Linked DNA regions of Homo sapiens: all the other regions are linked to region 3. The links come from fine-mapping of genetic effects on gene expression. A gene starts in region 3. Each other region holds a variant in brackets. All regions are shown on one strand. Distances are from middle to middle.

Evidence for each region. PIP is the estimated chance that this variant, and not a neighbour inherited with it, causes the effect.
Region 1: its variant is fine-mapped to the expression of SNHG8 in cerebellar hemisphere (GTEx, PIP 0.96).
Region 2: its variant is fine-mapped to the expression of SNHG8 in whole blood (INTERVAL, PIP 0.93).

What each region holds. Positions count from the first base shown.
Region 1 is chr4:118,332,598-118,336,959 of GRCh38, forward strand. It overlaps PRSS12 (serine protease 12), which reads right to left. Exons shown (of 13, transcript NM_003619.4): 3 at 2,876-3,054. Among named protein-coding and RNA genes, the nearest start is that of PRSS12, 18 kb to the right of the region's middle. The variant T/C (reference allele first, on the strand shown) is at 2,074.
Region 2 is chr4:118,230,137-118,234,136 of GRCh38, forward strand. NDST3 (N-deacetylase and N-sulfotransferase 3) reads left to right here. Exons shown (of 14, transcript NM_004784.3): 9 at 2,876-2,999. Among named protein-coding and RNA genes, the nearest start is that of SNHG8, 47 kb to the right of the region's middle. The variant T/A (reference allele first, on the strand shown) is at 2,339.
Region 3 is chr4:118,276,186-118,280,547 of GRCh38, forward strand. SNHG8 (small nucleolar RNA host gene 8) reads left to right here and starts at 2,577. Exons shown (of 3, transcript NR_034011.1): 1 at 2,577-2,607; 2 at 3,204-3,246; 3 at 3,439-3,638. PRSS12 (serine protease 12) reads right to left here. Exons shown (of 13, transcript NM_003619.4): 13 at 3,853-4,362. It overlaps SNORA24 (small nucleolar RNA, H/ACA box 24), which reads left to right and starts at 3,005; the gene lies at 3,005-3,135. RefSeq lists an enhancer at 2,105-2,284 and a silencer at 2,355-2,404.

The DNA of each region.
Region 1 (4,362 bases), 56 kb after region 3:
CTTTTATCTAAAATTGTCACTGATTTACTGTTTACATGTCAATTGTCTCACTCCTCTTGGCTAGAATGAGGACAGAAATACTGTGTTCCTTTACACCTATGTATTTCAGGTACCTAGTATACAGAGGCATATAATAATTATTTATTGACTGCCTCAACTGACAAGCAATGCTAAATAAACCTAGAAAAGACACTCCAAACAAGAAAAAATAATTGGCAACATCTATTCATTAATTTCTGATTAACAAACAGATATCAGACATATGCCTTGTACAAGGTGTTATGATCAGTGCTGCAGGGCATTCGAAGAGACACCAGACAGACCCGGCCCTCAGGAAGTTTACTGCCTAAGGGCGTCGATAAAAGGAGTACAGACAAGAGATTATCAAAAAACCCTACAGTGGTTCAGAAGCAAAGGACCTTACTCATGGTTGGGGGTACTTAGGGAATCACTTGTGAAAAAGCTGTTTTTTTAAGAGGGCCAAGATAGATGGGATTTGGAAGTCAGAGATGAGGGAAGCATGTTCAGGCCACTTGAACATTATGAACAAAAGAAAGAAGCACAAAGCTGAATGTGTCTGGCAAAGAGTAAAGCAGTCTAATTTTACTAGAATAAAGGACGTAATATGGTAAAAATTAACAGGTTGGTCCTCTAATATGAAGTCTAGTTGTACTTTTTGCCAAATACTAATCATTTATCTGTATGAAATATGTTTCTAATTTTCCACAGTTGTAGCAGTCAGTAAACGGCATTTGGATATTCACACTTAAATTCAAATATCATATTTGAGTTTTGTACACGTGCTGCCAAAGTAAGCACTCATATTTGAGTTTTGTAGCAGAAATTTAGATTAGTGACTATCTGCATATACTGTTTACTTGCATAAGTTAACTAGCACTTACAATTTGTTAATGGATAAAGACAGGTTTAATATATATGGCTGAATGATGGTAATATAATTCTCACAAATTATGATGTTTATTTTTCCTTTAAAAAGCTTACAAAATACAGAAAAACATGTATACATTTCTTAATATATTTTTCCCCACCTGTTAAGCTTGGAGAAAACAGAAAAACAAAAATTTTTAAGAGAAAGTTGAAAACCATCTAGGACCTAGACAGTTTATGGCATAACCACCTTTCACTTTCCTATGTTGTGTTTTATTTTAAAATGTGGTTTCTTTTTCTTTTTGGATGACTGTTAAAATATAAAAAATACAGAAAAGCACAAGGACAAGATTTAGTTAACAGCCCCATCCTTCCAACAAACACAAAACTCATTTGAAAGAAAATTCAGTAAATCAATGGACTCATATTTAGCTTATAGATAATTAAACTCCCCACGTTTTCATTTAGATTGCTGCTATTTTTTGTATCCAAGTTGCATGCAATCTTCTACTTTGAAATGTTGGAAAAGCTACAAGTACAGAATGACAAGACACTAAGTGTAATTCCCAAATTTAAGGGAAGTATACTAAAGATCTATCACTATCCCTTAAGGTGAACTCAATGTTCGCTGATTTCAGCTATACAACTCCACATTCTCATTTAATCTACCACGAGAGAATCTTTTTAAATTCTCACTTCTAATTTATCATAACTTTCTATATTTTATATATGTTTATAGATGACCATAAAATTATCTTTGCAACCAGAATATAAACAGATGAATAGATTATAGAAGGTGGAAGGAGTAAAAAATGTAGATAGATATCCTGAAAAAAAATTATAATTATTTTTAAAATTTTTTACTTTACTACTTGAAAAACATTTTATCAATCAGGTTGAGCATAGAGTAAAACCAATAATCTACAAACAGCAATAAATTATTGGGCCCAGTTCACATCATCCTTGAAGCAGCATTGGATTTAGCAAAAGTAGCATTACCCAAAGGTAGAGAACCAAAAGAAGAAAAGGGAAAACTTACAAGACATCAAGGTTTAACATATGCCTCTCCCAGTCAAAAAAAAAAGGATTATAGCTCTCAGAGTATACACCTGGACTATATCCCTCCATTGGCTCTTCCAGCCAATCCAGAGGAATTACTCCAAAATGGGTCTCTCTGTTTTGTGG[T/C]AGGAGCTTCCTTATTCTTCCCCCTGATACTTGTACTCAAACAAAAACCACTGCCCTGGGCTGACTGCTACCATTCCAAGTCCTGGGATATCTGGTCATGCTGCTATCACCAAGGAAAATGCAAAAAGGGATACCATGAGAGTATGGTGGCTTCAGGTTGTGATCATTCATTAAAATACACCATGGTACCCAGAAAACTCTTTCACCATCTTAAAGGCAGTTGTTCCTTCCTCTACTTCCATGAATATAAACATATCTGTACACTGAACCCATACTGATAATTACCACATACCTACTCTATGGAACTTGGAAGAAGCCCTCATTCAAGCCAACAATCCATTTTTAGGGAAGGTGCTCTCTACAGCCCCAAGAACACTGATGCCATAATTATATTGCATTACACAAAGTGAAAATATTTTGTTGTATTTGCTGTATTCTATATTTACTTTCATGATTATTTTCCAGCTTGATTCCATCATAATTTTCCATGACTAAAATATGTGTTTCATATACAATATATTATACAGTATATATATAACCTATAGAATATACATATTTATTTAAGCAAATTATATAAAATAGAAAATATGTTAAAAATGAGATACCACTGGAAAATCAAATGGAATTCAAATTAACAGTACTCATATTGAAGACTAATTAGATGGTAAAATATTTTGACTCAGACTTATTTCTGTAATTAAAGTCTTTAAGGAAATGATTATAACTAAGACACTTTCATCATCTGGAATCACGTTTAAAACATAATGAAAGTAAAACAACAGAACTTTTTTCTTTTTTTTACCATGGGAAAAGCTACACGTGACAGCAGCTGCCATCTTCTGAGGACACACCCCACCCTGCCAGATGTCTTTTTCACAAAGCAGTATATTTTCTTCATCTCCTCGGCAACGGACATTGCTCCAATAAATGGGAATAAGGCCCAGTCCAGAAAACGGGGTTTGTTTTGCTATTCCTTTTCCTCTGGAAGTACAATGAGCGATATTAGGTTTATCAAATGTAGGCAAAACTTTTTATCAAAACATTTGGATTTGAAAAAAAATGGAAGAAATCAACAAAGATGAATATGGAAGAAACAAAGAAAGAAAGAAGAAAAACACAAAAGACTACATCAGTTTCAAGGAAATCAAAACATCAGATCACAACGTGGTTTGCCTACTTATGGAATTCTTTTCATCAATCTTAAATAACTACTTTATGTGCCTTTACCACCAATGACTGATTTAGAAGAAAATGGCCAAGTACTGCAGACATAAAAAGTAAGGCTGTGTGCAAGAGGTGTGTCACGAGCTTCAGTGAGGCTTGGACTCCAGTCTGGGCTCAGCTAAAAGTCATGCCAAGCTGCAAGTAACTCGAAGGCTTTGTCTTCTAATGTGTCAAAAGAAAAATCTGGATGCTTGAAGATTCTTTCTGACTCTAACATTCTAGGCTAGCATTTTCAAAATTATTATTACTACATCTAAGCACAATAATATCACGGGAGGCAATCCATTTATAATTTTTAAAACCTTACACTGTATATAGTATTTGCTAGCAAGCCTTTGAAACCAATTAATAACATAGCAACATGCATCTCTTTCCTAACACCAGGAGAGTATTTTTAAAAGAAAAAATGAAAATAATAGCATACAGACGGGTTCTGCTTTTAGCTCATCTAATCCACATATTTTTGTAAGTAACCTCTGCTGTGTACAAACTGGCATTAAATTTTAAAAAAGGTGAAATGCTTATCTGATTAACATGGTAATCTCTACAACTGTCTCCATGCTGCAGCATTCCATCAACCAAACTGTAAATATTTGGGGTATATCTAAAATGTAAATGTGTCTTCACAGCAATAAAGCTGGGTTTCTCTGATTTTATCGTGCAATTCCTTTTTTTTTTAAATGGACTACTGAGAGATGATACTATATAAGCAGCTGGATCAGCTTATCTGAAGTTTGTTTGCAGAATAATAGTTTACATACTTTCATCAATCAAAAGACTAATAAACCACACAGTAGTTCACACCTCCACTATAGCGTTCTTGTTTCTTTGTATCTCACAGAAAATTTTATTCCTTTCTGATTTTCCGGGGTAATAAAAGCACAAATAGGTATGTATATAAAGGAAGACATTGACATCAGCCTACAAATTTATTACATCTCTTGCCCCTCAAAGGAAAAAGCATGAAATCATCATTCTTTGTGACCTGCCCACTTGCCAATTGTCTGTTTGCCAGACTAAGTATTCATGATAAAATCAGTAATTAACATTTCCAAGCACCATAAC
Region 2 (4,000 bases), 46 kb before region 3:
TGCTTTTTCTACTTTACCGTGGATTTCATGTAATGGAGCTTTTTTCCTCCAATAAATTTTAGATATTGCTTCATAGTTATTCTAAGTCAGTGATTCTCAAGGGTGGTTGCCAGAGCAGCAACATAAGCATCACCAGAAAATTTATTAGAAGTGCAGGCCAGGCACGGTGGCTCACGCCTGTAATCCCAGCACTTTGGGAGGCCGAGGCGGGCAGATCATGAGAGGTCAGGAGATCGAGACCATCCTGGCTAACACGGTGAAATCCCGTCTCCACTAAAAATACAAAAATTTAGCCGGGTGCGGTGGCGGGCGCCTGTAGTCCCAGCTACTCAAGAGGCTGAGGAAGGAGAATGGCGTGAACCCGGCGGGCGGAGCTTGCAGTGAGCCGAGATCACGCCGCTGCACTCTAGCCTGGGCAACAGAGCGAGACTCCGTTTCAAAAAAAAAAAAAAGAAGTGAAATTCTTGGGTTATAACAAAGACTTACCGAATCAGAGATACTGGGATAGGGCTGTGCTATGTTTTAACAAGCCCCCAGATGAATCTGATACATGCTAGTTAGAGGACCACTGTTTTAAGGCAAGCTTGTGAAGCACATTTTTACTTTGTATATCATAGATTACTGTTTTATTCCCTATAATGATCTATGATTACAGACAAACTGTTCATTGTTTGGCTCAGATATAATCTAGGAAGACTACCTCTTTCAATTCATTTTTTAAGACAATATTGCTGTTGACAGAGTTATTTTAACAATTTTTCTATTGTATAGATATGGTAGATTTAAGTAAATATTAAAGAAAGCTTAATTTATAAATACTTAAATAGTATTTATTTACTTAAATATTGCCATATTTGTACCATTTAAGTAAATAAACACTAAAATACTACCTTACTTCCATATTAATACTATTTAAGGGCGGGGCACAGTGGCTCATGCCTGTGATCCCAGCACTTTGGGAGGCTGAGGTGGGCGGATCACCTGAGGTCAGGAGTTCGAGACCAGCCTGGCCAACATGGTGAAACCCCGTCTCTACTAAAAATACAAAAATTAGCTGGGCATGGTGGCAGGTGCCTGTAATCCCAGCTGCTTGTGAGGCTGAGGCATGAGAATCGCTTGAGCCCAGGAGGCAGAGGTTGCAGTGAGCCCAGATCGTGCCACTGCACTCCAGCCTGGGCAACAGAGCAAGACTCCATCTAAAAAAAAATAAATAAATAATAATAATAATACTATTTAAGTAAATACTAGCATATTAATGCTATTTAAGTAAATACTATACTATCATCTTAATACTATTTATACTACTATTATTTAATTAGTACTATTAATAATACCATATTAATACCATTTAAGTAAATAAATAATAAAGAAAGCTTACCTGAAAAATAAGAAAATTCAAAGTTTTGTACAAATGGCAACATGACATAATTACTAAGCATAATTAGAGTAATTTCTCCAAGTGAGAGAAATATTATAAGGCCATGTCTTGTTACTATTGCTAGCTATTGACTTGGAATATAATTATCAAGTCCTGCTCCACAGATTGTATAACAGTGTAAATAATAGTATATTTCTCTCTTAGGAGTAGCCAATATATAGAAATACTTTTATATTATGATCTTTTAAACACAGTCACAGTTACAAGTATTAAATACATGGCTAAATCTTTGACAAACTGAACCCAAACTGCCTTACTTTCTCTTGTACCAATCTGACTAAGCTACACCCTTTATCTCCTCATTTAGTCTTATAAAACCCTAACTGTACAGTTTATGACATTGCTCACTTTTTGAAAAATCACACCCTTGCTCCCCAATAGTCACAAATATATATACGTACCTGTGATACACCATTCTCTTCCCTAGTAAATGCAAATTCTATAAGTTATGTCGCTAAGAAAGGGCACCATTTTTTTTTCCAATTTAGCAATTTAAACAATTTTTGACACTACTAAGTACATTGAAGCTTAAGCAAACTTGTGGAAAGATTAAATTCTGTCTTGAGTTTAATTAGCTTTCATAGGCCTCTGGAAGAACTTAATATGAGAACCCAAGTATTGATTTTGGTAATGTAATATGTTAAATAATAATATATTTCATTTATATAGTGCCTTATTACCGTCAAAATGTCTTCAAGTACATGTTCTTTCATTCTCAGAGAAAATCTATGAAATAAGTAGGCAGGTGATTTTCCATTAAGAAAGCTGAGACAGGTCAGGAGAGGTGACTCACTCCTGTAATCCCAGCACTTTAGGGGGCCAAGGTGGAAGGATTGCATGAGCTCAAGTGTTCAAGACTAGCCTGAGCAACACAGTGAGACCTCATTTCTACTAAAAATT[T/A]AAAAAAAATTAAAAATTAGCCCGGCACAGTGGTGCATCTCTGTAGTCACAGCTACTTGGGAGGCTCAGACAGGAGGATCCCACGAGCCTGGTGTCAAGGTTGTAGTGAGCCATGATTGCACCACCACACTCCAGCCTGGGCAATATAGTAAGATGCTGAAAAAAAAAGAAAGAAAGAGAGAGAAAGAAGGAAAGAAAGAAAAGAAAAGGAAAGAAACAAAGAAAGAAAGAAAAGATAAAAAGAAAACTGAGACAAACAGAAGCTAAAAGACAAAGTCACAGACAAATCAGTCATTGAGCTGAGATTGAAAGCCAGTTCTCTCAATCCCTGCAACAGGCCTCTTTTCACACCACACTATCTCCATTTTTTAGAACCTGCTTCTATTAAACTGCCGATTATCTATTCAATTTATTTCCAGCAGTAGTTGTAATAAATCTGTTTGGATCATTCTAATATTTATTCATGACTTTAAAGTGTTGATCATAGGAAATTGTGTTTTCATTTAATTAATTTCTGAACCTCTATTGTCTTTCTAGGTACCACTGCTTTGTATTTGTTCCTGGTTATGCATCCTTCCATCCTTAGTAACTCCCCCAGCCCAAAAACCTTTGAGGAGGTACAGTTCTTTAATAGAAATAACTACCACAGGGGGATTGATTGGTAAGATGGGTTATTAGTATAAATCTAAAAGTATATGTACTGTGCACAGTATAAACTTAGCACTAATATTTAGAAACATCTAAGTTTGTAGTCACAAATAAAATTTAACCTCTGTGCCTTGGAAATTGATTGAATATCATAAAGGGGCTCAGAAATTTTTCAGAACAAACTCTTCTCAGTTTATAAAGAGACTTGTTATACCAAGAGGATCACATGTAATTTCAATTGGCATTAATTTTCTTTGATGGTAATTATAGATATTAAGTCAGAAGAATAGCATAATATTCAGAAATTTAATTCCTTTCTACTCGTAAGGAAAAAAAATTTTCATATATTTTTCTTCTTGTGCACTTTTTATGAAGTGATGCTACAGCCAACATATGTAATTTTCTATTTTCTTTGTCACATAAAAGGAAAAATAAATAAATAAAACTAGAAATGTTTGTATATTACATGAGTAATCAAAGCTATAAAAAAAACTATCAACAATACACAGAATTTAATTCTTGCCTTTGAATCAAAATTAGAAATATATCAACCATCTGAACAAACACTTAAAAACTAAAAATGTCAGAATACACAAAATACAGTAATGTAGTAGAGATAGATGGTACAAACTAACATGTTAACCATAAAATGTCTCTGAAGGTCTTGCTATGAAGGTATAATGCTGAACAGAGGGTGGTATAAAGGAGTGAATTATAATAATTCTGCAGCATAAATATATTTTGCATGTATTTTAGCATAGTCATATATATCTCTTGTCAAACTGCATGATCTCAATTTTATAATTATCAGCCCCCTGAGGAGCTGCTTATGAGAAGTCCGAATGGAAAGGAAAAGAAATGGATTGAGTATAATTTGAGCACCTACTAGGATTTACATATATTCTAATTGTTATATATTTCACTGCCAATTTTTCAGTTCAGGGTTTGATATTGATTAATTGTGTGGTGTTACATAACAGCTGGAAAATCAAGAAACCATCGACAGTGGCCAGG
Region 3 (4,362 bases):
GTGATGGTGTGTAGGCCACAATAAAAAGTGTTGGAGCTTCCTCTCTTGAGTCACTCACTCTGAGGAAAGCCAGCTGCCACGAGAATCATGAGGACAGTCAAGCAGCCCTATGGAGAGATTCACATGCTGAGGAATTGAGGCTTCCTGCCAACAATGAGCATTAACTTGTCAGGTCTGTGAATGAGCCACCTTGAAAGAGAATCCTGCCGCACCAGCCCCAGTCAAGCCTTCAGATGGCTGCAATGCCAGTCAACATCCTGACTGCAACCTCACAAGATACACTGAGCCAGTTAAGCTGCTCTTAGATTCCTGACCAACAAAAACTATTTGAGATAGTAAGTGCTTATTTTTTTTTAAGCTACTAGGCTTTAGGCTAATTTGATATACAGCAATCGATAACTAATACATTGGTTGATACAAAAATATATCAAATACTGAAAATAAAGGATAGGGAAAAATAAGAACTAATTTCTTTGCTTTGAACTTTGAATGATTTGGAAAACATTGTAATGGCACTAACTGTAAGTTACTCAATTATATTCTCAAGTCTTGAGGCAAAGGCCATGTCTGCTCAATAAACATTTGCTGGAGTCTAGTAAATGTTTAACAACTGAACAAGATGTTCAGAACTGACAAGAATATTTTAATATAGATAGGAGGGAACGTCCATCTCCTCTCTTTTGGACACTATGCTTTTTTTTTAACACTAGATCATACTGCAATACACTATACTTTTATTACTGCAGCAAAACCAATTTTTACAGCAGAAGTATCACGCTGCTAGTATACACTGGAAGTTTAGATTTGCTAAGTGTTTTAAGATAGAAATAAGTCCACAGGTTATTTCCTCACTATATTTTCTCCTATTCATCTCAGCATTCATATGACAGATGTGCCATTCTATGTTAAATTTTTCTGATGACTACCAGTTTCAACACTAAACCACAAAAGGAAAAAAGATATAGTGCAGGGAAAAGCATTGTTGAAGAATAAATATTCTATAATGAACTGTTCACTCCATGTATCAAAAGCAGAACTGAAATGTTACCTAGCCATCATTTGATCAGTTCTAACAGGTTCACCTTGCATTCTATCTTTAAAATCCTTAGGCTGGGCGCAGTGGCTTGCACCTGCAATCCTAGCACTTTGGGAGGCCGAGGAAAGAGGATTACTTGAGCCCAGGAGCACAGGAGATCAGCCTGAGGGCAATATAGTGAGGGCTTGTCTTTCAAAAAAAAAAAACCTTAAAAAAAAAGTAGCCAAGTGGTGGCACACGCCTAGCAGGAGGCTCGCTTGAGCCTAGGAGGTGGAGGTTGCACTGAGCCAAGATCATGCCACTGCACTCCAGGCTAGGCAACAGAGCAAGAATGTTTCTAAATAAATAAATACATAAAATAAAATCCTTAAGCCAATCTTCATTTACCAACCAATTTTTAATTCTTTTATTTGTTACCACATTGTCTCTCCTGAATATCCAAAGGCTCAAAGCCTTGGTTTGAATGCAGCTAAATTCATTGGGTTTGATCTCAAGTCAAACTTAGAAATACTGTCATCTCAGCCACAAATTTCACACTAAAGTAGATAGAAACCACTACTAAATCACTACTTTGTCTTAAAATGAAAGTATAATAGACTGTAAGGTTATAATTGCTTTTTTAAGTTAAACTTTGTTTTACATTTACAGAAAATTTGCAAAAATGGAGTCCCCACACCCCCTTCATCCAATTTCCCCTACCATTAATATCTTACAATACCATGGTATATCTGTCACAATAAAGAAATCGGTATTGGCACTATTACCTAAATTCCACACTTTGTTCAGATTCGCTAGTTTTCCATTAATGTCCTTTTTCTGCTGGAGATCCCAGCCAGGATACCACATTACATTTAATCATTATGCATCATTTTCTCTGGCATAATAGTTTCTCAGACTTTTCTTGTTTTTGAGTAGTGATTAGGTAATTTGTAAAATGCTAACCAGCGATCTCAGCTCACCATAACTTCCGCCTCTCGGGCTCAAGAGATTCTCCCACCTCAACCTCCCGAGTAGCCGGGACTACAGGCGTTCACCACCACACCAGGCTAATTTTTGTATTTTTAGTAGAAACGGGGTTTCGCCATGTTAGCCAGGCTGGTCTCCAACTCCTAACCTCAAGTGATCCGCCCGCCTCGGCCTCCCAAAGTGCTGGGATCACAGACGTGAGCCACCGCGTTCGGCCCCTTTTTCTAATATTGTCTAAAATAAGTATCCTAAACAGGAAATACCAAAAAAATCCCCCTCGCTTTCGTGACCTACACCGGTAAGCGTCAGGATCTTTCGCTATGCGAGAACCTTTTGGCTCTCGTATGTGCGCATGCGTCTGGATCCGGAGCCAGGTGACCCGCTCAGACGTGGACCATGTGCGGGGGAGGGGGGAAAGGAGCCGCGAAGGGGGTGGTAGACGGAACAGGTGGAGCCGCGGCGGGGCTAGGCGGGGCGGGGAGTGAAACAGCATAGGCTCCGCCCCTCGCGGCGCTTCCCCCGGAATAGCGTCATCAGTTCTATAAGAGAGCGTGTGCCGAAGGCCTCGGCCTTTCACATTCGGGAAGCGTCGGGATTAGGTGAAAGTACGTAGTTGTCTTTCGTAAGTTAAAATGATAATTGGGCCGAAACTTACTGCCTTACCTAAAAGGCAGCGCAGTCAGGATATTGGTAGGTCGGGGGCGGCTTTGGAAACCCTTAAGTTTACAAGCATGCGCGGACTTGAGTGCTCATTAGGTCGCCGGGCGTCCACGTGCAGCCCTGGACCCTGAACCCCGGCGTGCGTGGGCCGTGGGCCCTCGGGGAAAGGTTCCGTGCACTCGGGGACTCCGGTGAAGCCTGTTCAGCCGTCTGTGTCATGTGGCCATCTTGAGTCTACTCTGTCGCTCTTGTGCCCTAGCACCCCGAGAACCGTCAGTTTGAGCCAGATGGTGAGTAATAACCTGTAGCAGTTTGGTTGCTGGTTAATTCTGGATTGTGAATCTCCATGTATCTTTGGGACCTGTCAGCCGTGGCAGTCTCCCTTCCTAGCCATGGAAGAGCATATCCTTGTTTATTGGCAAAGCTGTCACCATTTAATTGGTATCAGATTCTGACTTGCACAAGTAACATTCACTGTTAAAAACCTAGAGGGTGCCGGGTTATTGGGCAAAATTTCTAAACCGTTGTTCAATGTTTCTAGGAAGCTGAGCTGAACACATTACGATGGATGATGGAAACATAAGGTACATTTCTTTTTTGATATTTCTGAGTTAATCTGAAACGCCTTAGCGGCAGGACGTTGGAAAGCTAAAGTTGGCCCGTTTTGCTGGCTTTTGTAGTTTGAGTTAACAACCAACTGAATTAGCTGATAAGATCTCAAAACAGTGAGGTAAGTACACAGCTCGGAGTTTTATAATGCTTTTTTTCTCTTGCAGACTATCAAGAAATCCAAGTGGTAATGGGCGAAGTTTATTCAGCATCCGGCAATGGACTTATCGTAGTTGGGGAAACGGGTGTTCCGAATAATATCCTGGAAGTTATCAGGACACCTATTTTAAATATAGGCCTGAATTTTGTAAAGTAATATTTAAGGTGGTCCGTGATAATTAAATAAAATGCTTAATTCATGTGGCTACTCATTGTTCCTTGACTGAGTGATTAATAGACGGAAAGGTAGTTAATAGCATAATACCTCCTATTTAGTGTTACACGCTCATGTGGAAGTAGTGTGAGTACAGTTCTAAGGTAATTGCAGCCTTTGTGAAAAATGTAAAATATAAAAATTACCAGGCTACCCCCAAGGGAGACAGCAGACTCTTTTTAAACCATACAAAAATTTAAGGCAGTTATACAAGGTGGAAAATTATGTATTTATTTACACAAATATGCACAGAACACTTGTATCTTTCAAAAGTCACACTTAAGACATAGTAAAAGCATGTTGTATGAACCATGTATTCTTAAGGATTGAGCAAACTGCAGGCTGCTTGCTGCCTTTTAGGTTTGCTAGTCCCTGATCTACTTGAAACAGATGTTGCTTGCCCCAACACTAGTTTAATTATAAGGGCAGCCTGTGAGAAAGTTTCAATAGACATTTTTCTCACCTATATTGCACGTTTTTCTGAAGCCCTTGTGCAAGTGTGTGTGCCATGTGTAGTTCTATTTACATATAAACGCTACTTTAAAAGTTTATCAAAATCATGAGTTTTTACAAAAGTTTTTAATGCTCTTCTGCATTATATGCAGCATTGCAAATCTGCAAAGTAGTAAAACTATAAAGCACCTTTAGGTTTGCACCAGTTATTACAGAAATGGGGATTTGTGAAAAGGATGTAATTTGATGTAGAAGGGCAAAGTCC